Linked DNA regions of Homo sapiens. The protein of the gene in region 2 purifies or fractionates together with the protein of the main gene of each other region. This does not show direct contact. Each region holds a gene or a part of one and is shown on either strand. Other genes may lie near its edges.

The links.
Region 1: the proteins of UCP2 (region 2) and CST2 purify together in Homo sapiens (affinity purification with mass spectrometry; 3 studies listed by BioGRID and IntAct, with this or other methods). This does not show direct contact.
Region 3: the proteins of UCP2 (region 2) and MUC7 purify together in Homo sapiens (affinity purification with mass spectrometry; 3 studies listed by BioGRID and IntAct, with this or other methods). This does not show direct contact.
Region 4: the proteins of UCP2 (region 2) and AMY1C purify together in Homo sapiens (affinity purification with mass spectrometry, with the first as the bait; 3 studies listed by BioGRID). This does not show direct contact.

What each region holds. Positions count from the first base shown.
Region 1 is NC_000020.11:23,823,727-23,830,878, forward strand, and holds CST2 (cystatin-SA precursor), read right to left. Parts: upstream 3,004-7,152; 5' UTR 2,935-3,003; coding exon 2,707-2,934; intron 1,598-2,706; coding exon 1,484-1,597; intron 378-1,483; coding exon 294-377; 3' UTR 43-293; downstream 1-42. UniProt on the Homo sapiens protein: Thiol protease inhibitor.
Region 2 is NC_000011.10:73,979,834-73,987,048, reverse strand, and holds the start of UCP2 (dicarboxylate carrier SLC25A8), read left to right. Parts: upstream 1-4,205; 5' UTR 4,206-4,328; intron 4,329-5,416; 5' UTR 5,417-5,573; intron 5,574-6,119; exon of another isoform or gene 6,120-6,377; intron 6,378-6,996; exon of another isoform or gene 6,997-7,113; intron 7,114-7,215. UniProt on the Homo sapiens protein: Antiporter that exports dicarboxylate intermediates of the Krebs cycle in exchange for phosphate plus a proton across the inner membrane of mitochondria, a process driven by mitochondrial motive force with an overall impact on glycolysis, glutaminolysis and glutathione-dependent redox balance.
Region 3 is NC_000004.12:70,468,186-70,475,210, reverse strand, and holds the start of MUC7 (mucin-7 precursor), read right to left. Parts: upstream 3,015-7,025; 5' UTR 2,920-3,014; intron 1,205-2,919; 5' UTR 1,190-1,204; coding exon 1,136-1,189; intron 1-1,135. UniProt on the Homo sapiens protein: May function in a protective capacity by promoting the clearance of bacteria in the oral cavity and aiding in mastication, speech, and swallowing. Binds P.aeruginosa pili.
Region 4 is NC_000001.11:103,746,042-103,752,910, reverse strand, and holds the start of AMY1C (alpha-amylase 1C precursor), read right to left. Parts: upstream 3,014-6,869; 5' UTR 2,845-3,013; intron 2,488-2,844; 5' UTR 2,442-2,487; coding exon 2,274-2,441; intron 1,929-2,273; coding exon 1,782-1,928; intron 979-1,781; coding exon 781-978; intron 333-780; coding exon 102-332; intron 1-101. UniProt on the Homo sapiens protein: Calcium-binding enzyme that initiates starch digestion in the oral cavity.

The DNA.
Region 1 (7,152 bases), on a different chromosome or scaffold from region 2:
TGCCTGTGTGCACATCCCCAGACAGCCAAGAACTCAGAGGGAGGTGATGCTACTGTTTAATTGCAGGAGGTGGGGGTGTGTGTACCATGTACCAGGGCTATGAGAAGCAAAAGGAAGGAGGGAGGGCAGAGTCCCCTGCTGAGCAACAAAGGCCTCCTGCAGCCTTCTCTGTCTTCTCCTGCTGCAGGTGCATGGGGAGACCTCCCACAGGGTGGGGGCCACCAGTCCAGGGGTGGGAGCACTACAAGGGGTGGGAGTAGGAGGTGGTCAGTGTGACTCCCTGGCACAGATCCCTAGGCTTCTTGACACCTGGAATTCACCAGGGACATTCTGTCCTCCCAGGGAACTTCGTAGATCTGGAAAGAGCACAACTGTTTCTGTGAAAGGGAAGAGAGAGGGCCAATCAGTGTGAGTTACAGTTAAAGGGGAAGTCACCCAGGCATGAGATGTCACAGCCTGAGTGAGGAGGATGGAGGTGAGACACTGGGCCCTCACCCACCCCTGCTGAGTCCCAGAGCACTGAACTAGAATGAATAGTGACTGTTCCATTGCCCCTCCCAAGGCTCCAAGTCACCAGGTGGCATTGGGCCCCCACCGCAGCCTGCAGTGTCCTGTCCCAGCACAGCCCTGTGAGGATCAGCCTGTGCAAGACCTTGGGAGCCCCAAGGGTGCAGGGCATGGGGAGGTGGCTCACTTCCCCCAGCTCCTTCCACCTCCAGCACTCAGGCCAGCACTAAGAGGGGCCAGAGGGAAGAACCCAGAGCAGGGCAACTCCGCCTCAAAGAGCTGGGGCATGGGGCAATGGTAACAAGGGGAGTGTGGCTCTCCCCTGAGTGGAGACCTCACAAGAACCAGCAGGTCCCTGGAGAGGCTGGTGTTGGGTGAGCCGGGCAGGTCCAGGGCTTCCCAGCTAACAGGCCTCTAGGTCCCACTAATCTGATCATTGTGTCTGTGGCTGCATGCAGGTACCTGAGGCTGGGATTAGACAGAGCCCCTTCTCCCTGCCCAGCACACAGCCCCACAGCTGCTTCTTCCTGTCCAACAGGCAACACCCCAAAGCAGGCAGAGTTGATCTCCCAGTAACCATTCCCAAGCTGAAGGCTTCCTAGCAAATCAAACACATCACCCTCCTCCCTCACCACCCCATCTGCACACACATAGGCAACTACGTAAACTCACTTGGACCCCTCAACCCCATGGATCTATGTACAAACCCCCAGAATCCCCACACACAGGCACACATGCTCCCATACAGCTCCCTGCACACACTGGCACATGTGTGTACACACATGCACCTTTCCACATGCACATCTACATGCACAACCCTCCACAAGTACATGAACATGTATACATCCATGCATACATGACTCCCCACATACCCACCTGCACACACACACCCTCCAAACATGTGTAGGGCAGAGACTGACACATACGCACCCCTCTGCAGTGCATGACTGGCCTGGGACCCGCATCAGGAACGTACCTTCTGCAGTTCTGGCTGTTCATGGAAGGCACAGGTGTCCAAGTTGGGCTGGGACTTGGTACATATGGTTCGGCCCACCTCTATGTCGAAGAAGTAATTCACCCCGCCCACGATCTACACACATGAGAAAACAGGATGCACGGACAGCGCCCCCATCAGTTCATGCACTCACAGGCACTTCACTGTGGCTGAGTCACTGGACTTGCTTGGGGGCTTCGTGAGCTGCCCACATGTCAACACAAGGCACACAAGCCCCCTCTTCCTGTCAGCTGGCAGGGTGCTGGGCCTCATGCCCCCTCTTAAATATTGTTTTCTCTGTGCTGGGTAAAAGGATTCATTGAATTCTGCCACCTGTGGCTCAGGGGCAAGGGAACACTGACTCTTTTTACCCATGGGTGTCAGTTTACCCATGTATAAAATAGGCGTCCGGGCCTGATGGTCTGCAATGCCCTGTGCTTCACTCCAAGTTATTGTCATGCTTGAAAGGGAGGTGGAGGCAAGCGGGGACCATGGCACCAGGGAGTGCACCTCCCGTGCAGGGTGAGGGTCCCAGTTGACAGCTGCAGGAGGAGAAATGGGGCTGGTCTGGATTCCTTTGAATTTCCAAGAGAAGGTGGAGGAGCTCTAAAGCCTGTGTCACTATTTGCTGCTCTGCCATGGGATGCAGGTAAAGCTGGGCCCAATAGCCCTTCTGAAGCTCTCTCTTGACCTGACACCTCCTCCTCTCTACTGGGTAACTGCTGTCCTCATCTGGCTGAGGTCTAACTCTGCATCAACTCATAGAGGCAGGGTCAGGCGTGCTCCACCCCAGCAGGGACTCAGCTGCCCTGGGCTGTAGGGGGTGGTCAGCCGGCCTGAGGGTGAAGGCCATTAGCCCTAAAGGGCTGTACCCACGGGTGTGACTTGGGGAGTGAAGTAGGGCTCTGCAGAACAGGAAGCGAAGTTCCTGTGTGGCCCCTGAGGAGAGGACTCAGGGAGGAGGGTGAGCCTCATGGCCTGGATCTCATCCTGAGCAGCATCAAGCCCATCCAGAGTCAGCATAGTCTCCATCCCCCGGGAGCATGCTTAGGCATGAAGGCCATAAGCAGAGAGTCAGGGAAAGCTGAATGAATCTGAGCATTAGATCATGAATGTATCAGTGTTGATGTGCTGCGAATGCTCTTATGGATCGGGCAACAAACAAGGCTGGGACTCAGGACCCCTCAGGTGGAGGCAGCACCCACCTGCTCCCTGGCTCGTAGCACCCGCAGCAGGCGTCTGTAGTACTCATCTTCAGTGGCCTTGTTATACTCGCTGATGACAAAGTGAAGGGCACGCTGTACCCGCTCATCATTGAGGTCTGCATCATAGATGCCACCCTCGATTATCCTGTCCTCCTCCTGGGGGCTCCAGGCCAGGGCCACAGCCTGGGTGGCCAGCAGGAGCAGCAGGGTGCACAGGGGCCAGGCCATGGTCTCCTCGGAGGCAGAGCACAGAGCTGGAGCTGCAGGAGAGGAGGTTGAGAGCCTGAGGCGGGGATCCCAGACCAGCAGGCAGCTGTGCATTTATCCTGCTTTGGCAGCTCAGCCCCACCCCCCTCCATGACCTGCCCCTGACTCCTCCTCCTCTTTCTGCTCATTCCCTCTTTCTCCATCTCTCTTTTCACTCCTCAGAAACCACAAGATCCCTCCCTGCCTAAGTTCTCCCTGCCCCTCCCAGGCCTCCTCCTCTATCTACCCCTCCTCCCCACTCCTGTCCTCACTGCAGCCTCCCCGAGCCATGCCTCTCTTCCCCAGTGCTCCCAAGCTTGAGTCACCAGGTCTCCACAGAGATGACACTTCTCCTTTGGCTATGAAAACAATGTGACCTCCTGTTTGCTCAGAAAAGTGAAAAATACAGGGCTTGGCCTCCGGGGTCTTCAGATATCAGAGGCATCCAGGAGCACTTGGTCACGGTCTCTGAATCTCTGGAACAGGGAGGTTATTTCAGAAGGTTCCAGAAGACCCTGTCCACACCCTATTATGGAGAATTTCTTTGCCAAATTCAAGGGAATTAACCTTTTTTGAAAAGGTCACTGGGTTCTCTTTTCATAACTCATTATTCAATAAAAAAACTTATCACCAGCTACTCCCCGTGCCAGGAGGTCTAGGGCTTGAATACTGAACCTGGATGATGAGCCATAGAGGTGACATTGCAGAGCTGCTGCCCACAGAGATGTGACATGAACCCACGAGCATATGAAAATGTGTAGTAGATGCATTTTAAAAGATGAGAAAAAATGGGTGAAAGTAATGTTTAAAATATTTATCTAACCTAATACAGCCACAATATTATTTCAGCTAATAGGAACTATTATTAATGAGATTTTTTTTTTGTTGGAGGGGTTTTGTAAATCTTTGAAATTCGCTGTGTATTTTTTACACTTAGCCTGGGAGTCATTTTGGACTGGCCCCATTTCAAGTGTCCCGTGGCACATGTGGCAGGTGGCTATGAAACTGTACAGTCCGTTCCTACACAGTGTGTGTAGGGGATGATAGGTTATGGTCAACAATTAGGATCAGGGAGTTATACTCACTCTGTTGGAAGTGAAATAGAACAGGGGCTAGAGAGAGACCACTGGACCCTGGTCAGGGTGGTCTCTATGAGACTGGAGAGGTTGAGAAGCCCCAGGCATTGGGGAACAGCCAGTGCAAAGGCCCTGAGGTGGGATTGGGACATGCCTGCTCCAGGAAGAGGAAGCTCCTGGAGGGGATGTGAGCAGGGAAGGGAATGACCTGGTGTCTCATGGTAACTGTGGGTGGGGCCCACAAGGTGCAGGGAGACACCTGGCAGGCAGTGGGGGTGTCAGAAGAGGGAGCAGAAGCCAAGGGATGAATGTGGGAGCCCACAGGCCTCACTTGCTTCTCTCCTAGGCAGCCATGCTTCCAGCTTCTTTCCTCTATGCACTGCTTGGAAGACCCACCTGATATTTTAAAAATTGCCTTGAAGGAGGTAGAATTTACATACAGTAAGATGCCTAATAGTATGTGCCCACCTGGAAGATTTTGTAAATACATACACCTGTATTACCACTTTGTCCAGACCTCTGACATCTGCCTTGCCCCAGACGGTGTCCTCCTGCCTCTGCAGCTCATCCTCGTGCCCACCCCACCCTGGCAGCCCCTGTCCAGTCCTGTAGACTCCTTTGTCACCTGCCCTTGAGATTCCCAGGAATGGAATCCTGCAGAGCAATCCCAGATGTGTCTTCGTCCTTTGCTCAGCGTGGCTTTCCAGTGGCCCCCAAGTTGCTTCATTGCCAGGATTGGGAGTTCTCCTTCTCCACAGACTGAGAGGACCTAATCACCACAGTGCTCTGTGGGGTGACAAAGTCTCCAGCTTGGGATGCTGTGGGCCTGTGCTGGAATGTGGCTCCAGGATTGGGGAGGATGGAAGGAGGCCCTGAACAGACAGCTGCTCCCTTTGTTCTCTCAACCCAACCCTCCATGCCTGAAGGTGACCCTGTGGCAAATGCCCTTGTGGTGAGGTGGAAGGCTTGGTGAGAAACACCAGGAAACCCTGGGCCTTTGCATGGCATCCAGAGGACTCTCCTGGGAGTAGTGGAGGTGAGGGTCAGACAGAGTCAACCCAGAGCTGCTGGGATCCTGGGTCTCAGCCGTGGCTGGGGCTGCATCAGCAGGACCCGGCAGCAGGAACAATATTACTCATTGGTGTTCATGTTCAGTATTAGGACAGGGGACCTTGTTATCCAAGGCCCAGTGACCATTGCACACCACTGTCAATCCAGCACACCTAGAAAAACCATGCATCCCAGCAGATACAGCAGGTGTCCCAGGGATGGTGTTTACCGCTGGGTGATGGAGGGAAGGTCTTCAAACAGGGCTGCGCAGGATGGCTCCTAGTTAGACAGGGAATGGGGATAAATTCCCAGAGAAGGGAGAGAGAGGGAAGTCCCTTACCAGGTGTTTGTGAGCAGAGTGGTCATCTCCAAAGGGTAGGACTTAGTTCTCCTCTGTGGCTCCCACCTTCCTGGGATAGCTGGGAGTCCAGACTCAGGAAGAGCTGCTGTGCAGAGGATAAGCTGAAGGTCAAGAAATCCTCTCATTTTTTTTTATCACTGGAAAGGAGATGCAGGTTGAAGGGGTGGCCTGCCCCTCCACACCTGTGGGTATTTCTAGTCAGGTGGGATGAGAGGCTGAGAAAAGAAATAAGACACAGAGACAAAGTATAGAGAAACAACAGTGGGCCCAGGGGACCGGCGCTCAGCATACCAAGGACCTGCACCGGCACCGGTCTGAGTTCCCTCAGTTTTTATTGATTATTATCTTCATTATTTCACCAAAAAGGAACATAGCAGGAGGGCAGGGTGATAATAAGGAGAAGGTCAGCAACAAACATGTGAGCAATAGAATCTACGTCATAATTAAGTTCAAGGGAAGGTACTATGACTGGACATGCACGTAAGCCAGATTTATGTTTCTCTCCACCCAAACATCTCAGTGGAGTAAAGAATTACAAGGCAGTATTGCTGCAAACATGTCTCGCCTCCCACCATAGGGCAGTTTTTCTCTCATCTCAGAATTGAACAAATGTACAATCGGGTTTCATACTGAGACATACAGTTCCCAGGGGCAGGCAGGAGATAGTGGCCTTCCTCTATCTCAACTGCAAGAGGCTTTCCTCTTTTACTAATCCACCTCAGCACAGACCCTTTACAGGTGTCGGGCTGGGGGACAGTCAGGTCTTTCTCATCCCACCAGGCCATATTTCAGACTATCACATGGGGAGAAACCGTGGACAATACCCTGCTTTCAAGGGCAGAGGTCCCTGCAGCCTTCCGCAGTGCATTGTGCCCCTGGTTTATTGAGACTAGAGAATGACGACGGCCTTTATCAAGTATACTGCTTGTAAACATTTTGTTAACAAGGCACATCCTGCACAGCCCTAGATCCCTTAAACCTTGATTTTATACAACACATGTTTTTGTGAGCTCCTGGTTGGGTCAAAGTGCCTGGGGCAAAGCTACAAAATTAAGAACATCTCAGCAAAGCAATTATTTAAAGTACAGGTCTTTTACAAAATGGAGTCTCTTATGTCTTCCATTTCTACATAGACACAGTAACAGTCTGATCTCTCTTTCTTTTCCCAAACAGGTAACCCAAATAGTGAGAATTTGCTGGTGGGTGGAGTGTGAGGGAGGGAGGCCAAAGTGCTGATCTGTGCCGTGTATGTGATGACACCACCAGTGGTCATCTTGTGTCAGGATGCTGGCATGCACTGCAGGGAGGGTCAGCTGTCCTGATGCAGCAACCTCTCTAATCTCAGTAGGAAAGATACCAATGTATGTTGCTTTTCTGAGGAGGTACAAGTGCGATGTCCAGTATGGAGTGATAGGAAGTGGCAGGTGGGGGTAGCTGGCCAGCTGCTCCAGATGTTTGATGACCTTAGGCAAATGTTGTGTCTGTTGTGCGTGTGGAGAAAGAGGCTACTTTTTAAAGCGTATTGTCTGGGAGTTCAGACCAGCAGAGATGAGCAGACTTTACCAGTGATGTAGCAACATGTTTGAAAATGATGGAATAGCCAGGTGAGGTGGTGCACCTGTAATCCTAGCTAATTAGGAGAGTGAGTCAGGAAGATTCCTTGAATCCAGGAGTTCAATTCCAGCCTGTGAAACACAGTGAAACCCCCATCTC
Region 2 (7,215 bases):
TCTTATGTAAACATGGAAAGATTGCCAGCTGAACACCTGTCATGCTCTAAGAAGTTGGGGAGAATTTGCATTTTTAGAACTGTGAGCAAAATGAGAACGACTGCTATGTTCATGCTTTGTGAATTTAGCTTTATTTCATTCACACAATTCATGGGAAAAAATGCATCTTTTAACTCGGTGTTTTTCAATTCAACTTTTAAAATACAGGAGTGGGCCAGACCCGGTGGCTCACACCTGTAATCTCATCACTTTGGGAGGCCGAGGCAGGTGGACCACAAGGTCAAGAGATAGACACCATCCTGGCCAACATGGTGAAACCCCATCTCCACTAAAAATACAAAAATTAGCTGGGCATGTTGGCACGTACCTGTAATCCCAGCTACTCGGGAGACTGAGGCAGGAGAATCGCTTGAACCTGGGAGATGGAGGTTACAGTAAGCCGAGATCGCGCCACTGCACTCCAGCCTGGCGACAGAGCAAGACTCCATCTCAAAAAAAAAAAAAAAAAAAAAAAAAAAAAAAAAAAAAAACCAGGATGTGTTACCAAGGAAAATTCATTTACAATGGTTAATTATGTGACAAACATGTCAAGTAATTCCATCTGGCTTTGTGTCACCATTTCCCCACCCTTTTTTCAGAAACCAAAACCAAGAAGAAGAACAAACATCAAAATGGACATGGAAATTAACAAATATATGATTCAATTTAATCTCCTAAGAGGTTTTTTAAAATTATTTTATTTTGAGACGGAGTCTTGCTCTGTCGCCAGGCTGGAGTGCAGTGGCAGGATCTCAGCTCACTGCAACCTCCATCTCCCAGGTTCAAGCGATTCTCCTGCTTCAGCCTCCCAAGTAGCTGGAACTACAGGCAAGCACCACCACACCCAGCTAATGTTTGTATTTTTGGTAGAGATGGGGTTTCACCATGTTGGCCAGGATGGTCTCGATCTCTTGACCTCATGATCCACCCGCCTTGGCCTCCCAAAGTGCTGGGATTACAGGTATTTTTTATTTTTTTTGAGACAGGGTCACCCTGTCACCCAGGCTGGAGTGTAGTGGCACAATCATGGCTCACTGCAGCCTCAACCTCCCAGGCTCAGGTGATCCTCCATGTCAGCCTCCCAAGTAGCTGGAACTATAGGCGTGCAACACCATGCCCAGCTAATTTTTGTATTTTTTGTAGAGACAGGGATTTGCCATGTTGGCCAGGCTGGTCTTCAACTCCTGGCCTCAAGTGATCCACCCGTCTCAACCTCCCAAACTGCTAGGATTACAGGTGTGAGCCACCGTGCCCCATCTCATCTGCTAAGTGGGTTTAAAGAAATTCAGTTTCATGTCAATTTTTAAAATGTATGGTTATCAAATTCGACTTCTTTTTAAAAATGCAATCAGATAACTGTATGCTTGTTTGATGAGGGGAGGAAAGTTAATATAGCCAATCTACTCAATATTTTTAGCAGAAATTATCAGAGACTAAGGAAATGTTTAAGTTTTTCTCATGTTGGTTTTAATTACCTAATGTTTTCAGTTTTCTCTTTCATTCTTGTGTCTTTTTTTCATTTTCAGTGTTTCAAATACAGTTTGTATTTAAAGATTTAGAAGTTCCAAAACTGTAAGCACAGTGGATTGTTTCCTGGGATGATGTTAAAATTATACAACAAAATATATGAAACTTTGTCAATTTGGTTATTGGCACATACAAAATATTTACAAATAAACGTGTGTGTGTGTGCGTGTACACACAATTCAATGAAATAGATGTGAAACAAGTTTTCTTTTTTTTTTTTTTGAGACAGAGTCTTGCTCTGTCGCCCAGGCTGGAGTGCAATGTCGCAGTCTCAGCTCACTGCAACCTCTGCCTCCCGGGTTCAAGCGATTCTCCTGCCTCAGCCTCCCGAGTAGCTGGGACTACAGGCACCTACCACCACTCCCAGCTAATTTTTGTGTTTTTAGTAGAGACAGGGTTTCACCATGTTAGCCAGGCTAGTCTCCAACTCCTGACCTCAGGTGATCTGCCCGCCTCAGCCTCCCAAAGTGCTGGGATTGCAGGCGTGAGCCACCTCACCTGGCTACAAGTTTTCAAAATACATTTATCTGTACCCATACATTCTCCAGTTTGTCCACAGGACATCTTATGACTTGAGCAAGCTGCTAAAAATCCAAGGGTGCAGCGTTTGTATGTCTATAGGATTGCTCAGATCTGCCCCCACCCTGAAAGAATTTAAGAGAATTTCTTGAGGCCAGGCACAGTGGCTCACACCTGTAATTCCAGTACTGTGAGAGTCCGAGGTCAGAGGACTGCTTGAGGCCAGGAGTTCAAGAGCAGCCTGGACAACATAGGGAGACCTGTCACTACAAAGAATAAATAAATTAGCCAGGCTTAGTGGCTCATCCCTGTGGTCCCAGCTACTAGGGAGGCAGAAGTAGGACTGCTTGTCCCAGGAGGTCAAGACTGCAGTGAGCTGAGACCCAGCCACCTGCATTCCAGCCTGGGCAACAAAAAGAGACCCTGTCTCAAAAAATAAGTTAAATAAATAAATAATAAAAATAGTTTAAACCCTAAACACATCTTCTTTTTCAAAGAGGACTTCTTAAGGACTTCATGCTGCGTCCTGTTGATCTCCACTTCCCTTTTTCAGCGTCCACACTTTTAACAGTCTCTTTTGCCAAGGATAATAAGTATATAGTTTCTGGAATCCAGATTCTTCCCTGTTTGGACAGCCAGGGGGACAATTTTTGGTCTGCAGGCCTTTGCATCTGTTCTGCTGTTGCTCAGCAATCTCACAGCAAATTTGCCGAGCCTCTCCGGAATGCACAGCCAGACAGAGCTCAGCGCAAAAGCTAGAGAACCTGGCGGAGGGAGACTCACAGTGCCACAAAAAAACTTTATCTTTTCTTTTTTTTTTTCTTTTCTTTCTTTCTCTTTCTTTCTTGTCTTTCTGTCTTTCCTCTCTCTCTCTCTGTCTTTCTTTCCTCTCTTTCTTTCTTTTTTCCTACATGGCAAGATCTCCTCATGGCAGAAATAATCTGCCTTGACTTCTGTTTCCACGCTGCTTCTGCCAGGACCATGCGCTCGGCGTGTTTTTCTTTCCGCTATAATTATCCAGGCCCATCCCAGCTCTGGTCCCCTCAGCTGTTCCCTGGCAGTCCCTTCTGCTGGTGAAAACACATATGGCGCCGGCCTGACCAGGGTGTAAGTGTGTGAATATCAGGAAGATGACTGAACGTCTTTGGGACTCCGTTTCCTCATTGTAAAATGGAGGTTAATACCAGCCTTCTTCTACTCCCCAAACGCACGTGTTTGTCCCGGCCAGAGGGCCCAATTGTTGGCTGTTCACGCGTCAGTTACCCCCACAGGACGGGTCAGCCAATTAAAGGCGAACCAGGCCCGGTCCATCTCCTGACGCCTTTTCTCATCCCAGGGCTGGACAGGCAGCTGGCCTGGGCCCGGCTCTGCCTTGTCACGTGCGGGGGCCGGCCCGTTTGCTTGTCTGTGTGTAGGAGCGTGAGGTCACGCTGGGTGCTCCCGCCCCGCCGGGGCCTTTAGTGTCCTGGTCCCTAAACGCCAGGCCGCTCCACCGGGGGAGAAGGCGCGAACCCCAGCCGAGCCCAACGGCTGTTGTCGGTTGCCGGGCCACCTGTTGCTGCAGTTCTGATTGGTTCCTTCCCCCGACAACGCGGCGGCTGTAACCAATCGACAGCGAGGCCGGTCGCGAGGCCCCAGTCCCGCCCTGCAGGAGCCAGCCGCGCGCTCGCTCGCAGGAGGGTGGGTAGTTTGCCCAGCGTAGGGGGGCTGGGCCCATAAAAGAGGAAGTGCACTTAAGACACGGCCCCGCTGGACGCTGTTAGAAACCGTCCTGGCTGGGAAGGCAAGAGGTGTGTGACTGGACAAGACTTGTTTCTGGCGGTCAGTCTTGCCATCCTCACAGAGGTTGGCGGCCCGAGAGAGTGTGAGGCAGAGGCGGGGAGTGGCAAGGGAGTGACCATCTCGGGGAACGAAGGAGTAAACGCGGTGATGGGACGCACGGAAACGGGAGTGGAGAAAGTCATGGAGAGAACCCTAGGCGGGGCGGTCCCCGCGGAAAGGCGGCTGCTCCAGGGTCTCCGCACCCAAGTAGGAGCTGGCAGGCCCGGCCCCGCCCCGCAGGCCCCACCCCGGGCCCCGCCCCCGAGGCTTAAGCCGCGCCGCCGCCTGCGCGGAGCCCCACTGCGAAGCCCAGCTGCGCGCGCCTTGGGATTGACTGTCCACGCTCGCCCGGCTCGTCCGACGCGCCCTCCGCCAGCCGACAGACACAGCCGCACGCACTGCCGTGTTCTCCCTGCGGCTCGGTGAGCCTGGCCCCAGCCCTGCGCCCTTTGCGCCCCCCACGCTTGTTCTGCGTGCGCTGCCCGCTCTTCCATTTACCTTCTCTCCCACCCAAGTTTGTACTCTTTTCTTTCTCTCGGTTTTATTTTTTGTTTTTGTTTGTTTGTTTGAGACAGGCTTTCGCTCTGTCTCCCAGGCTGGAGTGCAGTGGCGCGATCTCGGCTCACTGCAGCCTCCACCTCCCAGGTTCAAGCGATCCGCCTGCCGAGTAGCTGGGATTACAGGCGCCCGCCACCACGCCTGGCTAATTTTTGTGTTTTGTAGAGATGGGGTTTCGCCATGTTGGCCAGGCTGGCCTCGAACTGCTGAGCTCAAGCAATCCGCCCGCCTCGGCCTCACAAAGTCCTAGAATTTTAGGCATGAGCCTCCGGGTCCGGCCTGTGCTAATCCTTTCTGTCCTTGGTTCTTTATTTCTCTTCTCTCTTTTTCTTAGTCCCTTTTGTTCTTTCCCTCTCCCGTTCAGTTGGCTGTCGTTTGAGCCTCCACCTTTTCACTCCCTCCTTTCCACCACGATGCCGAGCCCTGCCTTGGATGGGGACCATCAGCGATGACCACAATGACCTCTCCCTTACCAGGCAGCTCCAGGCAGTGTTCCTGCACCGCCTTTCCCAGGGCTTGGGGGCTTTTTCTAGTGGGCTTTGAGCTGCTCAATCTGGCCTCTGCAGGGCCGGCTCCCAGCCCTTCCAACCTCCTCACAGCCCGACCTGGGACCTAGCCAATTCCCGGAGAGTCTCTGTCCCATCGTGACCCCCTCACAACTCTCCCACTCACCAAAGTCTGATGACTGTGCTAGGGGGTGCTTATATAGAGTACTGAGTGTTACAAAAGCAGAAGTCTGGATGAGAACCAATTTGTGATATTAAGCAGGTGGGGTGGGGGTGGGGAGTGTACCTAGGTTCATTTTCCGCCCTGCTTTTCCCCTTTCCAGTGTGTGCACTTAACCAGTCCCTGGGCCCTGTTCCCCATCCCCCTCCAAGGCATGGATTGGGTGGGCTTGTGTGTCTTGGGGCAGGTGGCCCTTTCTAAACTCTCTGCCTTTGCTCACCCACAGGACACATAGTATGACCATTAGGTGTTTCGTCTCCCACCCATTTTCTATGGAAAACCAAGGGGATCGGGCCATGATAGCCACTGGCAGCTTTGAAGAACGGGACACCTTTAGAGAAGCTTGATCTTGGAGGCCTCACCGTGAGACCTTACAAAGCCGGGTAAGAGTCCAGTCCAAGGAAGAGGTCTCTTGCTGCCTCCTAACCCTGTGGTCTAGGGGCAGGAGTCAGCAGGGCATTAACAAAAATAATTACCATCCCCACCCCCGACAGTGAAGTGGCTCTTTCCAGTTCACAGAGCACTCTCACACCTCCCCGCTCTCATTCTGGCCCTTCAGCTGACTCGGACAAGCCAAGGATCTTGGTCCCCATTTTATAAAGGAGAAAACTGAGGCCCACGTGTAACAGTGATTGGCCCCAAGTCATCCCGGGAGCCAGCAGAAGAGCTAGGACAGGAACCTATTGTTCTAACTTCATATTGATGCTAGCTTTTGACTATCCCTGAAACCGAGATTGGTAATCAGCCCGGCTCTGAAACTGGTTATTTGCTGGGGACTGTAAAATAGGATTAACTATTTCTAGTCCTGCATTTTAATTGCTGTTAGTAGGGCCATCTTACCCACCCTCTGAAGGACCTGACTTGGCAAGCCCAAGGCAACATTCAGAATATGGCAGCTGAACCTCTGTGCACTTGTCTTTGGGCAGCAGCTGGGTCTTATTCTTCTCTGGCCTTCACAACATCCTGCAACCCAGCTCAAGGTCAGGAATGTGACAGACTCATGTCATCATATCTCTGATGCCCAGAGAAGGGATACCATTTGCCTGAGCCTTCTCAGTACTGTTTAATCAGCCTGTGAGAACTTTCCTTGTGAAAGGCCCTGTCTGTGCCTGGGGCTGATAAAACAGCAAGAACGAACTGAGGAGCTGGGCAGCAGTGCAAAGCAAATACTACCAGCTTTGGTGCCTGTAAGTGTGGCTCTTACTCATCTCACATGGAAATAAGGGCAGCCACCTTGCAGGGCTGCTCTGAGGATTGAGCTAATACAGTGCCCTGGGCGTTGGGGTGGGGAAAGTTGTGGAGCACCTCCTGGGGGAAGGGGGTGTCAGAGCAGGGAATCTGGGGAGTCCGAGGGCACCTTCATCAACCCAATCTGTCATTTGAGCACCAGTCTTCACTGAGCCTCGTGGGCAAGCTGGAGGGAAACAGGAATAAGGTCAGGCCCTGTTCTATAGGTCCCAGTGTAGTTGCTATGGTGAGTATCTTCATTTCCCTGCTTGCCCCAGCCACCTGGAGTGAGAAGCCCAAGAGGAAGCTGGGTGAGCTGTTTGTTTCCATGGGTCTCTGTGTTCACAGCTGACTCCCTTCACCAGCCAGCCCTTTCACCTGAGCCCCAGCAACAAAGGCAGTCAGGCGGGGCTCAAAGCAGCTGCTCCAATGAAGTCAAAGAAATAAGCTCAGGGGAAGAAGCAGGTCACCCTCCCCCACTAGGGTGCTGGGCTCACTTCCTCCTGGGGCAGTGGAGGAGGGTGTGGTTCCAACTCAGAACAAAATGGGGCTTTTGGTTTACTTTATCACTCTTCACAGCTCTGACCTGGACCCCTCATCCCTGCCTGTCTTGTGGTGTAAGTGCGGATCCCCCTAAGTTGGAGGAAAGGAAACTGGCCCAAACAAAAAGGAGAGCAGTTTTCTCTGCATCACATGGTAGGCCAGGAGGAGTCTAATGCCCCAGAGTTTACTCTCAGCCCCCAAAATCACCTAGCTAAATGTTACCTTATCTAAGAAGTCCTTAGGTTTTTTGGGGTT
Region 3 (7,025 bases), on a different chromosome or scaffold from region 2:
GCCTCCCAGGTTCGAGCAATTCTCCTGTCTCAGCCTCCTGAGTAGCTGGGATTACAGGTGCCCACCACCACACCCAGCTAATTTTTGTATTTTTAATAGAGACGGGGTTTCACCATGTTGGCCAGGCTGGTCTTGAACTCCTGACCTCGGGTGATCCACCTGCCTTGGCCTCCGAAAGTGCTGGGACTACAGGCATGAGCCACCGCGCCCGGCCTGTTCATTTCTTTCTTTTACCACATATACAATCCAGCAGAAGATATAGTAGACTCAATCACTAAAATATATCCTAAACCCACTCTTATCTTTTAATTGCTGAAATTTAGTGCAAGTCACCATCATCTTTTATCTGGACCACTGCCATAGCTTCCTGACTAGTCTCCTTATCTCAGCTTTTGTTACCTGCTACCTATCTTCTCCTGAGAATCCTGTCATGTAAATCCCCTGGGAGTGCTTTGATCATGCTGAGACTTCCTGACAGATTTGAAACCATATTCCACACCAAGACCTAAAGGCCTTACAAACCTGGGTTTTCATCTGTGTCAGTTCTCATCACACTCACTATAAAGTTTGTGCTCTATAGATATTGGATAAATGAAACAAATTATTTCCTTATGCTCTATCTACCTACCTACCTACCTACCTACCTAGTCTATCTACCTATCTATCTAGTCTATCTACCTATCTGTATATATTTTTAAGACAGGGTCTCATTTTGTCACCCAGGCTGTGGCATAGTGGTATGATTACGGCTTGCTGCAGCCTTGACCTCCCAGGCTTAAGATCCCAACCTCAGCCTCCGAGTAGTTGGGATTACAGGCACGCACCACCACACCTGGCTAATTAAATTTTGTTGTTGTTGTTGTTGTGGAGATACTGTCTCATTATGTTACTCAGGCTAGTCTTGAACTTCTCTGAGCTCAAGTGATCCTCCCTCCTAGGCTTCCCATAGTGCTGGGATTAGAGGTGTGAGCCAGTGCACCGGCCAATTGTCCATATTTATAGGTTTCCTGGAAATAAAAGATGTCAAGCTTCTTGGAAATAGGGGTTGCCTATTATGCTTTAAAAGTCTCAGGTAGGTACACTAAATGTTTGTTATTGATAGTTAAGGAAAAAACTTATTTGGGTGAATACTTACCGAGAAGCAAGCACTCAGTGCACAGATGCACACAAACAGCGGCAGAGTTTTCATTCTTTCTGATGTCTCCTGGGAAAAGCAGAAATGTGGCGTACTATTAGTTATGATATTATGGGAGAGGAATGCGTTTTGGTAAATAACTTATTTTTATTAGAAAGTACAGGCAAAAAGAGACCAATGGTTTCTGAAAATTATGTATACATTTTCATTCCATAGGGGTGATGCAAAATTGCTTCAGGCCTAAAATGCATTCTTTTAGAGAGGAAGCAATGGAGGAGGCTCAAGAATTATTCTAACTAGTTTGCAAAATGAGCATTTTCTATTGATATTAAAGATTGGCTAGGAAAGGCAGGATCTTAGGAAGTTTAGCAATAAGAAAAGGAAATAATTTTCTTCTTATTTCTTTTCTAATTCAGGAAGCTCCCCTCTGTGGGGAACCATCATATAAATGACCTGATACTACACAGTTTTGCAAAGACTCCTGATGTTAGAGGAAAATGCTCTTTGTCGCTGTGCTATAAGGCTGTCACTTGGAACAAAGAACCAGGTCAAATGGACTCTTCCTCCAATTTCATTCTACTGAAGATTTTGCCATTTGATAATCCTTTTTCTTGTACCTTTTTTTTTTTTTTGAGACAGAGTCTCGCTCTGTTGTCCAGGCTGGAGTGAAGTGGCACACGCATGGCTCACTGCAGCCTGCACCCCCCAGACTCAAGCGATCCTCTCACTTTGGCCACCCTAGTAGCTTGGACTACAGTCATGCACCACCGCTCCTGGCTATTGCTATTATTATTTTTATTTTTTGTAGAGACACGGTTTCACTGTGTTGCCCAGGCTGGTCCTGAACTCCTGGGCTCAAGCAATCCACCCTCATCGGCCTCCCAAAATTCTGGGATTACGGGTGTGAGCCACCGTGTCTGGCCGATACCCTTTTTCTAAGTCCCAAAATGACAGGAATTATTCTTTATTCATTGTTATGTCATCATGCCTAGTACATAGTGCAGACTTAATACATATTTTTTTTGAATAACTACTTGCAAAAGAGAATTGTATTTTGGCTATAGGTTGTAGAAGGGAAGAGTGAGAGAAGAATGTGGTCTTTTGTTTTTCTCATTTTGGTTATATATGTAATGTGTACATGTCAGCTTATCAGCTTTAGAAAACAAAATAAAGGTTAAATCATATAGACAGATTACATATTAGGGCAGGTAATTAGTGTGCATGTCAATGTGGTGGGCTGTGAGATTAGACACACTTTACAATACAATCCCATGGTTTATAAAATGGGTGTTAGAGTCAGTCAGAGACTTGATTTAAGCTCTGCCCACTTACTGTGTGACTCTGCCACTCACTGCATGACTTTGAGTGAGTTGCAATCTTACATCATAAGAATGTCCTGAGGATTGACTGGAATAATATATATATTACAAATCGTACTGAGAATAATGTCTTATCCATAATAAAGTCTCAGTGGTATTATTATAGTACTAGCACACTAAGAAGAAAACAATCTGACCCAATTGAAAAACGAAATGGTTACTTATTATTCTTCAGGTTCCTAATATATTGTCAGATTTGTTTTTAAATTTCAAGACCAAAAAACATTCCTACCAATCATATTGTGTTCTAATAACATATGAATTGAGTGTTACCACACTGTTTGGCAGTTCATAAGAAGAGAGGAGAATAACTGTATTAGAACAACTATTGCTATTACTTAATATATGTATATTACTTGAAAGCTGTTTAGTTTATATTAGAACCTATCTAAAGTATCCACATACCTGGTGCAGTGTGAATCTTTCTTCTTAGGGTGTTCAATCCAGTTGCTTGCTTTTAGCCAATCCTTTGAGGATGGTAACTAGAAGCAAAAGAAGAGAAAGCACAAGAGAATTTTCAGGTTTTATAACACTCCAGTCGAGCTTTTTGGAAATAGGAAATCTATTAGATTTAAGATAAGGTCATTTGTGTCAAGGAATTTACTTTTAAAGAAAAGAATAGTTGTGGTTTGCTGAGATTGACAGTAGTTCTTTGTGCATCAATTTCTTCCTGATGAGCACAGTGACGATCAGAGGTTCTCAATGAGTAACTTATGTGCTTGATGAGTAGTGGAACAGTAATTGAAGGCGCTTACGGAGAAACAAACAACCATGGCCCAGGTCCTCCCAACAGGAACAGATCATCCACTCTTTCCTGTTGGGCTCTCAAAGTAAGCAGAGTGATTGCCTTCTGACAGTTAATGTGATGGAACACCATATTTCCTTGTCAATAAGACAAGTTAATAAAGGACAGAGGATTTAAAAAAAATACTGTGGTGCCAAGTACTGGTGCAGGGCAGTATTTAAAGCCAAAAAATCAACACTGAATTTTTAAATACAAGTAATTAAAAACAATTTTTGACTTTTTGTCTTGAAAAATATTCAAACATATAGAAAAGTGAGGAGGGTAGTAGAACTATATACTCATTCCCTGGTTTTCATAATTCTTAACATTTTGCTATATATCTTAGTTGTTTTGCTGAAGTATCTTAAGGTAAACTACAGAAATTGTAACAGCTACTCTCTATTTCAGCATTTCTCTCTAAAAAGCCTTTCTTTTATAACACAACACCATCAACCTATAACAATATTAATAATTCAAACATATAATCTAAAATTGAGTTTATACTCAAATTTTGGCAAAAATATTTTTAGTCATTTTGTTCCTACCAGGACTCAACTAAGGGCCGTGTGTTGCAGTGACTTGTTATGTCTCTAGTTTCTTTTATCCCAGAAAATTTTCTCCCATTTCCCCCATGGTAGTGATATTTTGATAGCTAGACTAGTCATTTTATAAATATTTATTTTTAAAAAGAAACTTAATAACTTAAAAAAGAACTTAAGAATCATTTTAATAGAGATCTTCAAAATTAGATATTTCTACTATGTAAAATCGTTAATCTGGAATACAGTTTTGAAGGTGTGATTCCACTTCTAGCTAGTCAGTTTGTTCTTTTGCACATACAGTCTCTGAGGGCTTACATTCTTTGGGTTTGATTCCTTGCTTCTCCACTTAGTAGCCATGTAATTTTTGACAGGTTAGCTAACTTCTTTGAGCCTCAGTTTTTCTATCTGCTAATTAGGTGTGACATCTACTTTACAAAGTTGTCAGACTGAAAGTAGATAAGTTAAAAGTTCTGACATGGTTCTTTTGAATGGAACACCCTCAGCTATTATGCTGCCATTAGTGGAAAGTTAGGGACAGTTTTTGAGATAGCAATGAGTTAGTAAATATGGGCTATAATATTAATTTCTTTTCATCTTTTTTTGCTAGCAACTAGTGATATGCATTTACAATATACTTGTTATAGTTAAAATTGACTGTAGAATATAATTTTTATTGATCTGAACAAGCTTTTCTAAGTACATGACTTCAATAGAAAAATTTTCATATCACCTTGCTATTACCCAATTAGTGATAAGTTGTAATGACCTCAAAAATTGATAGAATTTCAAAAATTGTCTAATTATCCTCAGTCCTAAATAATGCCTGGAGATAACAAATTTAATTTTCTTTAAATATTGGAAAAATATAAGAATATCTGGACATATTATGACTGAATCCAGTACATTTCAGGTTTTATTTTTCAATAAATGAGTAACACTTATGCATTTATTATTTTAATTTTTTAAAAATTATATTCTCTTGGGATACATGTGCAGAATGTGCAGGTTTGTTACATAGGTATACATGTGCCATGGTGGTTTGCTGCACCCATCAACCTGTCACCTACATTAGGTATTTCTCCTAGTGCTATCCCTCCCCCAGCCCCCCACCTGCCAACAGGCCCTGGTGTGTGATGTTTCCCTCCCTGTGTCCACGTGTTCTCATTGTTTAACTCCCACTTGTGAGTGAGAACATGCAGTGTTTGGTTTTCTGTTCCTGTGTTAGTTTGCTGAGAATGATGGTTTCCAGCTTCATCCATGTCCCTGCAAAGGACATGAACTCATCCTTTTTTATGGCTGCATAGTATTCCATGGTGTATATTGCCACATTTTCTTTATCCAGTCTATCATTGATGGGCATTTGGGTTGGTTCCAAGTCTTTGCTATTGTAAATAGTGCTGCAATAAATATATGTGTGCATATGTCTTTATAGTAGAATGATTTATAATCCTTTGGGTATATACCCGGTAATGGCATTGCTGGGTCAAACGATATTTCTGGTTCTAGATCCTTGCAGAATCGCTACACTGTCTTCCACAATTGTTGAACTAATTTACAGTCCCAGAAACAGCATAAAAGCATTCCTATTTCTCCACATCCTTTCCAGCATCTGTTGTTTCCTGACTTTTTAATGATTGCTATTCTAACTGGCTTGAGATGGTATCTCATTGTAGTTTTGATTTGCATTTCTCTAATGACCAGTGATTATGAGCCTTTTTTCATATATTTGTTGGTTGCATAAATGTCTTCTTTTGAGAAATGTCTGTTCATATCCTTTGTCCACTTTTTGATGGGGTTGTTTGCTTTTTTCTTGTAAATTTGTTTAAGTTCCTTGTAGATTCTGGATATTAGCCTTTTGTCAGATGGATAGATTGCAAAAATTTTGTCCCATTCTCTAGGCTGCCTGTTCACTCTGATGATAGTTTCTTTTGCTGTGCAGAAGCTCTTTAGTTTAATTAGATCCCATTTGTCTATTTTGGCTTTTGTTGCCATTGCCTTTGGTGTTTTAGTCATGAAGCCATTGCCCATGCCTGTGTCCTGAATGTTATTGCCTAGGTTTTCTTCTAGGGTTTTTATGGTTTTAGGTCTTACATTTAAGTCTTTAATCCATCTTGAGTTAATTTTTGTATAAGGTGTTAGGAAGGGGTCCAGTTTCAGTTTTCTGCATGTGGCTAGCCAGTTTTCCCAACACCGTTTATTACATAGGGAATCCTTTTGCCATTTCTTGTTTTTCTCAGGTTTGTCAAAGATCAGATGGTTGTAGATGTGTGGTGTTATTTCTGAGGCCTCTGTTTTGTTCTATTGGTCTATATATCTGTTTTGGTGCCAGTACCATGTTGTTTTGGTTACTGTAGCCTTGTAGTATAGTTTAAAGTCAGGTAGCATGATCCCTCCAGTTTTGTTCTTTTTGCTTATGATTGTCTTGGCTATACGGGTTCTTTTTTGGTTCCATATGACATTTAAGTGGTTTTTTTCTAATTCTGTGAAGAAGGTCAATGGTAGCTTGGTGGGGATAGCATTGAATCTATAAATTACTTTAGGCACTATGGCCATTTTGATGATATTGATTCTTCCTGTCCATGAGCATGGAATGTTTTTCCATTTGTTTGTGTCCTGTCTTATTTCATTGAGCAGTGGTTTGTAGTTATCCTTGAAGAGGTTCTTCACATCCCTCGTAAGTTGTATTCCTAGGTATTTTATTCTCTTTGTAGCAAATGTGAATGGGAGTTCTCTCATGATTTGGCTGTTTGTCTATTATTAGTGTATAGGAATGCTTGTGATTTTTGCCCATTGATTTTGTAGCCTGAGACTTTGCTGAAGTTGCTTATTAGCTTAAGGAGATTTTGGGCTGAGAAGATGGGGTTTTCTAAATATACAATCATGTCATCTGCAAACAGAGACAATTTGACTTCCTCTCTTCCTATTTGAATACCCTTTATTTCTTTCTCTTGCCTGATTCCCCTGGCCAGAACTTCCCATACTATGTTGAACAGGAGTGGTGAGAGAGGGCATCCTTGTCTTGTGCTGGTGGTTTTCAAAGGGAGTGTTTCCAGCTTTTGCCCATTCAGTATGATATTGGCTGTGGGTTTGTCATAAGTAGCTCTTATTATTTTGATGTACGTTCCATCAATACCTAGTTTATTGAGAGTTTTTAGCATGAAGGGGTGTTTAATTTTATCAAAGGC
Region 4 (6,869 bases), on a different chromosome or scaffold from region 2:
ACTCAGTCTTTATCCTACAGAAATTGCATTTTTAATTGAATCTGCCGTGAATTTTCTAATGAATAGGATGATATTTTATATGCCTATATGTATTGACGTACCTCCTGGTAAATGAAAGGTTTACTACCTTCCGGGAACCAGTTACTGTTTAGATTATGCAGTTTGTCCAAAATTGCCTTTATGTCTCCAGGCCACATGTGCTTGGAAGCATCAATTCTGAACCCTGCAACACCAATGTCAATGAGATGGTTCATATATTCGGCAATCTTAGAACGCACATAATCCTTCCCCAGTGCAAGATCGAGAAGACCAGACAGACGACAATCTCTGACCTGTTGAGGTAAGAATGTTATGATTGATTAATAAAACCTCACTTTTCGCCTGAGAATCCATTTGATTATTCATTTATTCCATGATTCCTCAAGAGATATTCTATGGTGACTTCCTTGCATTGGACACTGGGGATGCTCACATTCTACTATAGATGTATCTTGGAAATATTTTCTAATAGAAAATAGAGAACTTAGGAAATAAAGTCGATGAGTTTTTCAATTGGTTGGGAGCTTTTTAAAAGTGGACAAATGTGTATTGATTAAAAATCTTAAATCAATATTTAAAGGTTTTCAAATATGGATTTGAGTTTCTTAAAGTAGTCAAACTTGTTAACCTCTGTCCCTAAGAGATCTAAATTCATATTTACAACGAAGTTCAATTAGCTACATGTCTACAACAAAAGGCATATATCACTCCTTATTCAGATCACTCTCGTAAAAAAATTACCTGAGTAGCATCATTATAGTTCTCGATATCTCCACTTCCAGTTTTACATTTACCATCATTAAAATCCCATCCAGAATATGGGACTGCTGGAAAGTCCCTACTTCCAGGGTTGAAGTAACTTCCACAGGTACTGCTTGTTCCTGCACTCACAGCATTACCACACATATGATTAATTACAGCATCCACATAAATACGAACCTAGAAAACAAAGTTTCTAATTCAGTGTGACTTACAGAGAGGCAGAAATTTAAAGAATTATTGATTAAATTTATAGTGTGCTAATAAAATTCCAAAATATTTCATACCTTATAACTATTTTCCTACAAGATCAAAAATCAACTGTGAAAGGAAAGTAATGTGAACTAAACACCTACATTCATTCCAGACACTTGGCCAAATATATATAGGAATGATAAACTGAGAGAACCGGAAACTACCATAAATAGGAGGAAAGGCAAAAAGCCCATTTTGGGGAGACACAACTCAGATGAGACTGAAAAGGTTACTATTTGGGAAATTTCAGTGGGTCACCAGGAGAAAGCCTGTACTCTCTACTAAGCTTGGAAGACAAATAAGGTAGCTATTCATCTCAAATTCTGCTCCTCATTAAATAGATAAGCTACCTATTCACCACAAAAAAAACCCAAGAATTAGGAATGGAGACACAAGTCATCTAAAAATGAGAGCAAATATTGTAACTGGAATTAAAATTCCTCACCAGAAAATCCTTCCAGGAAATATGGATAGTTATAGCGGTTAAAATTTGATGTTTTGCTTCAGAAGTAAACTCTGCTATAAACTTTAACTTATCTCTTTAGTAGAGAGCACATATACAAATATTTTCAAAAATTGAACATAAGGTGACAGTTACTTTTGAGTTTTAAAGTATGAAGTAAAATTAAAACTGATATGGAAAACTTTCTGCTCAAAAGGAGCAAGAAAGAAGAGACAGAAATCATTTTCCTATCTGTTATTTTTAAAGGAAACTAGAATTCACTTACCCCAACATTGTTGCATCTAGTCACCATGTTTCTAAATTCATCTTCATTTCCAGATCTTGTGCATAATTTATAGCTAACTGGTTGGTATCTTTCCCACCAAGGTCTGAAAGGGTTGTGAATGGCAACATTTTCATTTGGTGGAGAGACCTACAAATTAAACAGTCTTCATAAGTACCAAATTCTGTCTTACTGTATATCATTGAATGTTCTAGAATCTAATCAATAATACAAAAGATTCTTGAATCTTGGTATAGGCAGCTATCTCTTGAAAATATTAACAGCACATCGGAGGGCTCTTGTTGAAGAAAGATTATATCAGAAACAAAATATACAGTTGCAAAGAATACTACATTGTTTTTTCCTCAGAAAATTCTTTTACTTAGAATACTTACCTGTGAAGTAAAATGTTGCCCAAGCTTCACGTAGAAGATCAGAATAGTGTTTACTACAAGCACAGTGAATTCTGCAATTGATACTATGAATCATACCCACCTGAACCCCTCCAAATCCCTTGGGAGCTAAATATCGCTCACATTCAAGAGCAATATCAACCCATCGCCATTCAAACAGATGAACAATAGATGTTCGTCCTTGTTGTGTATTTGAGGAATACTGAGCCCAGCAGAACCCAATGGTGAAAAGCAACCAAAAGAGCTTCATTTTGCTTTGAAGTTGTCAGTGTCCTTTCCAGAAACTATTTATATTCCTGTAAGAAGCACATTTTACAATGTAAATAGTAGCATGAATAAATACTTGAGGGCAAACTGTTTATTCATAATCTGAAAAGGATTATCAATAATAATCCTAACTGGTGAAGAACATCAAAAAGTCTCTCATGGAAATCATCTCAATGACCTCTTAGACATTAATGTTTCTTTTCTTTTCTTTTTTTTTTTTTTTTTGCATATGGTAGCACTTTTATTTTTCCTTACACAATGACATGTTGCTGTGGCCTAATGTTCTCACATAACAGCAGAAAACCAAAATTTGTTGTCAACTCTTAAAAGATCGAGAATTGCATACTAAAAAACTTTACATAAATTAAAAGGATGAATACATTTACCGGTATAAATGCGAACCGCTTCCAACTCAAGGCAAGTAACAGCCCACGGTGCTCTGGTAGATAACGTAAGCTAAGAAAGGAAACTGGGTCCTATGGCTTGGACTTTCCAACCCTGACAGACCGACAAGACGGAAACAACTGGTTCAGGAGCCCTTCCCAGCCTCTAGATAAATCTCAGAACACTCAGCCCTGACACATTAATACCCTGCACGGATCAGAGACTGCTGACCACACAGACTCACCAAGCCAGACTTGTCTTCCACAAGCACGTTTTTAGCCATGAAGTGACCAAGCCACGTGTACTAAACACTGACATCAAAGGTATGTACAGATACCAAGGGGAAGAGTTAACTTGAATGCCAGGCCAAAATCAGCAACAAGTTCTACAATCCAGTGCTGATATTGAGAAGAGAGAAAGACCCTGTCCTCTTGTTTTATATTGTTTTCTATTCAGTAAAAACAACAAGGAAGCAAAATCAAAGGCACAAAACCAGGCCTGGGCCTGGTTGGCCTAAACCCAGTAGTTACAAATCAACTTATGATTTAGAAGCCGATGTTATTCATAGATTCCAGACATTGTATAGAAGAACATTGTGAAACTCCCTTCCATATTCTGTTTCTCCCTGACCACGGGTGCATGTAGTCCTTGTCGCATATCCCTGGCTTGTTCAAATCAATCACGACCCTTTCATGTGACATCTTTAGTGCTGTGTGCCCTTAAAAGGGACAGAAATTGTGCACTTGGGGAGCTCGGATTTTGAGACAGTAGCTATCCGATGCTCCCAGGTGAATAACACCCTTCCTTCTACAACTCGGTGTCTGAGAGTTTTGTCTGCCGCTTGTCCTGCTACATTTCTTGGTTCCCTGACCTGGAAGCAAGATAACTGATGGACGGCCGAGGCAGCTCCTTAGGCAGATTAGGCATGCCTTGTGGAGTAAGGCCGGGGCATCCCTCAGGCTGCCAGGGACTCTGGCCAGCCTGAGGGATGGGATCCAAAGAGCGCTCCCAGGTAGGAAATGGCCCCGGTTGAACGCCTCGCCAGAGCAGTGATCCCCGCGGAGGATTAACACAGTGGCTGAACACCAGGAAGGAACTGGCACTTGGAGTCCAGACATCTGAAACTTAGTAAGACAAGTCTTTTCAACTTGCCCCACTCCACCTGAGCGGAAGCTTGGCCTGATCGCTCATGGTGTGCCTGCACCCATATCAATTTCCATATAGAGATTCCTAGTTACAGCTAGTTTTAGATCCTCTACAGTGGTAAAAGGACAGGCAGCAGCAGTAGTAGTAGCAAAGGGACATTTATTTCAGGAAAGTTCTCGCTCCACCGGCCAAGAGAAGCCAGCACCTAAAGTTCTGTTTGACCCAGAGCTCGAGGACTCAAGGCAGGAGATGGCACCAACAGTGCCCTCAACCCCTTATCCAGTGGGGAGGCCCCCTTCTCCTGAGCCCACAGCCCCTAGACCACCCAGAGTAGACAAGAACAAAAGTGAAACTGCGGGAAAATCCACTTCCCTGGCAGCCCGCTTAACGGCCCAAGACGGGAATTCAAATGCCCTGAGAGAGCAGCGATATACTAGGACAGATGAGGTCAGACATACGGTAGAAAGGCATGCTTTTGTGTATCACCCTTTTACCTCTGCTGAACTACTCAACTGGAAAAATAACACTCCATCTTACACTGAAAAGCCTCAAGCCCTAATTGACTTGCTTCAAAGAATTATCCAGACTCAGAATCCTACTTAGGCTGATTGCCACCAGCTACTCATGTACCTCTTTAAAACACATAAAAGGCAACAGGTGCTGCAGGCAACAGTTAAATGGCTGGAGGAGCACATCCCAGCCAATTATCAAAGTCCCCAAGAATACATAAGAATTCAGCTGCCAGGAACGGACCCTCAATAGGATCCAAATGAAGGACCAGATATGGAAAGGCTAAGAGGGTACCGAGAGGCATTAATTGAAAGGTTGAAAAAAGGGGCTCAAAAGGGTACCAATGTAAATAAAGTTTCTGAAGTCATCCAAGGAAAGGAGGAAAGCCCAGCCCAGTTCTATCAAAGACCGTGTGAGGCCTATTGCATGTACACTCCTTTCGATCTGGAGAGTCCTGAAAATCAGCCGTTGATTAATACGGCCTTAGTTATTCAGAGTGCAGAAGATATCCAGAGAAAATTGCAAAAACAGGCTAGGTTTGCAGGAATGAAAACCTTGCAGTTACTGGAAAGAGCTAATGAAGTATTTGTAAATAGAGATGCAACAAGCGGCCAAGAAAGCCGTAAGGAGGGCGAACGCCAGGCCAGGTGAAACGCTAGTTTGCTGGCTGTGACAATTAGAGGAATTCTCCTGAAAAGGCAGAAAAAAGGGGGTTCTGGGAGGAATGCCCTGTCCAATCACTCACATTTGCAGCATGACTAATGTGCCTACTGTAAAGAAATAGGACATTAGAAAGATAAATGTCCCCAACTCAAAGAAAATCAGAGTGATGCAGAGCCAAAGACCTCAAACCAAGATGAAAGGATTTTGTTCAATCTAGCTGAGGGGCTGCTAGAATTAAGGGGAACAGGCTCAAATGCCCCCAAGGAGCCCATGGTCAGGATGACAATAAGGGGCAAAGACATTAAGTTTTTAGTGGATACAAGAGCCGAACACTCAGTAGTAAGCACTCCAGTGGCCCCCTCATCTATAAAGACGATTGATAGAATTAGAGCAACAGGAGTCTCTACCAAGCAGGACTTCTGTCTACCGCGCAACTGCTCAGTGGGAGGACACAAAGTGATTTATCCATTTCTGTATATGTCTGACTGTCCCTTGCCTTTGTTGAGAAGAGACTTGCTTAGCAAGTTAAGAGCCACCATTTCCTTGACAAAACAAGGCACTTTACAGCTGGAGTTGCCAGAAACAGGAGTCATCATGGCCCTTCCAGTCCCCCAGGAAGAAGAGTGGAGACTTTTGCTAACTGAGCCAGCTCAGGAAATAAAAGTGGCTCCAGCTGAGTGACGGCTCTGAGTAGAGATGGAGGACAATCCTCTGAGGCTGGCAATCAATCAAGCCCCCGTACTCATAGAAGTTTAGCCTACGACCTAGCCAATTGGACAAAAGCCGTATCCTGTTCCCAGGGAAGCCTTTAAAGGAATAGAGACTCATCTTATATGCTTAAAAGCCTCTGGAATTCTAGTTCCTTGCCAGTCTCCATGGAACACCCACCTCCTACCTGTCCCTAAACCAAGGACCAAAGACTATCGACCCGTACAGGACTTGAAAGATGCCTTCTTCACATCAGGCTAGTTCCTGAGAGCCAAAAGCTGTTTGCCTTTCAGTAGGAAGATCCGGAGTCAGATGTCACCATTCAGTACACTTAGACTCGACTTTCCCAAAGGTTCAAAAAGTCCCCCACCATCTTTCGGGAGGCCTCGGTTGGAGACCTCCAAATGTTTCCTGCTAAAGACCTAGGTTGCATCCTGCTCCAGTATGTAGATGACCTTCTGCTAGGACACTCCATGGCAGTCAGGTGTGCAAAAAGGACGGGTGCCCTGCTTCGACACCTGGAGGACTGTGGATATAAAGTGCCCAAAAAGAAAGCTCAGATCTGCAGACAGCAGGTACACTACCTAGGATTCACTATTTGAAAAGGGGAGTGCAGTCTATGGTCAGCAAGAAAGCAGGTCATCTGCAGCTTACCAGAACCTAAAACCAGGAGGCAAATAAGAGAACATTTAGGAGCTGTGAGATTTTTGCAGACTGCAGATTCCAAACTTTGTGGTGTTAGCCAAAGCATTGAATGGAGTTATAAAGGGGGTGACCGAGAGCCTTTTAAATAGAGGTCTCTACAACAACAAGACTTATAAGTTAAAAGAAAAACTTATGTCAGCCCAAGCTGACTCTAATGTAACTCTAAGGAACACCAAAAGACACCATTGGCTAACAAATGCTACATTAACTAAACACCAAAGCTTGTTATGTGAAAATCAATGTATAACCATAGAAGTCTGTAATTCTTTAAATCCTGCCACTTTGCTCCCAGTAT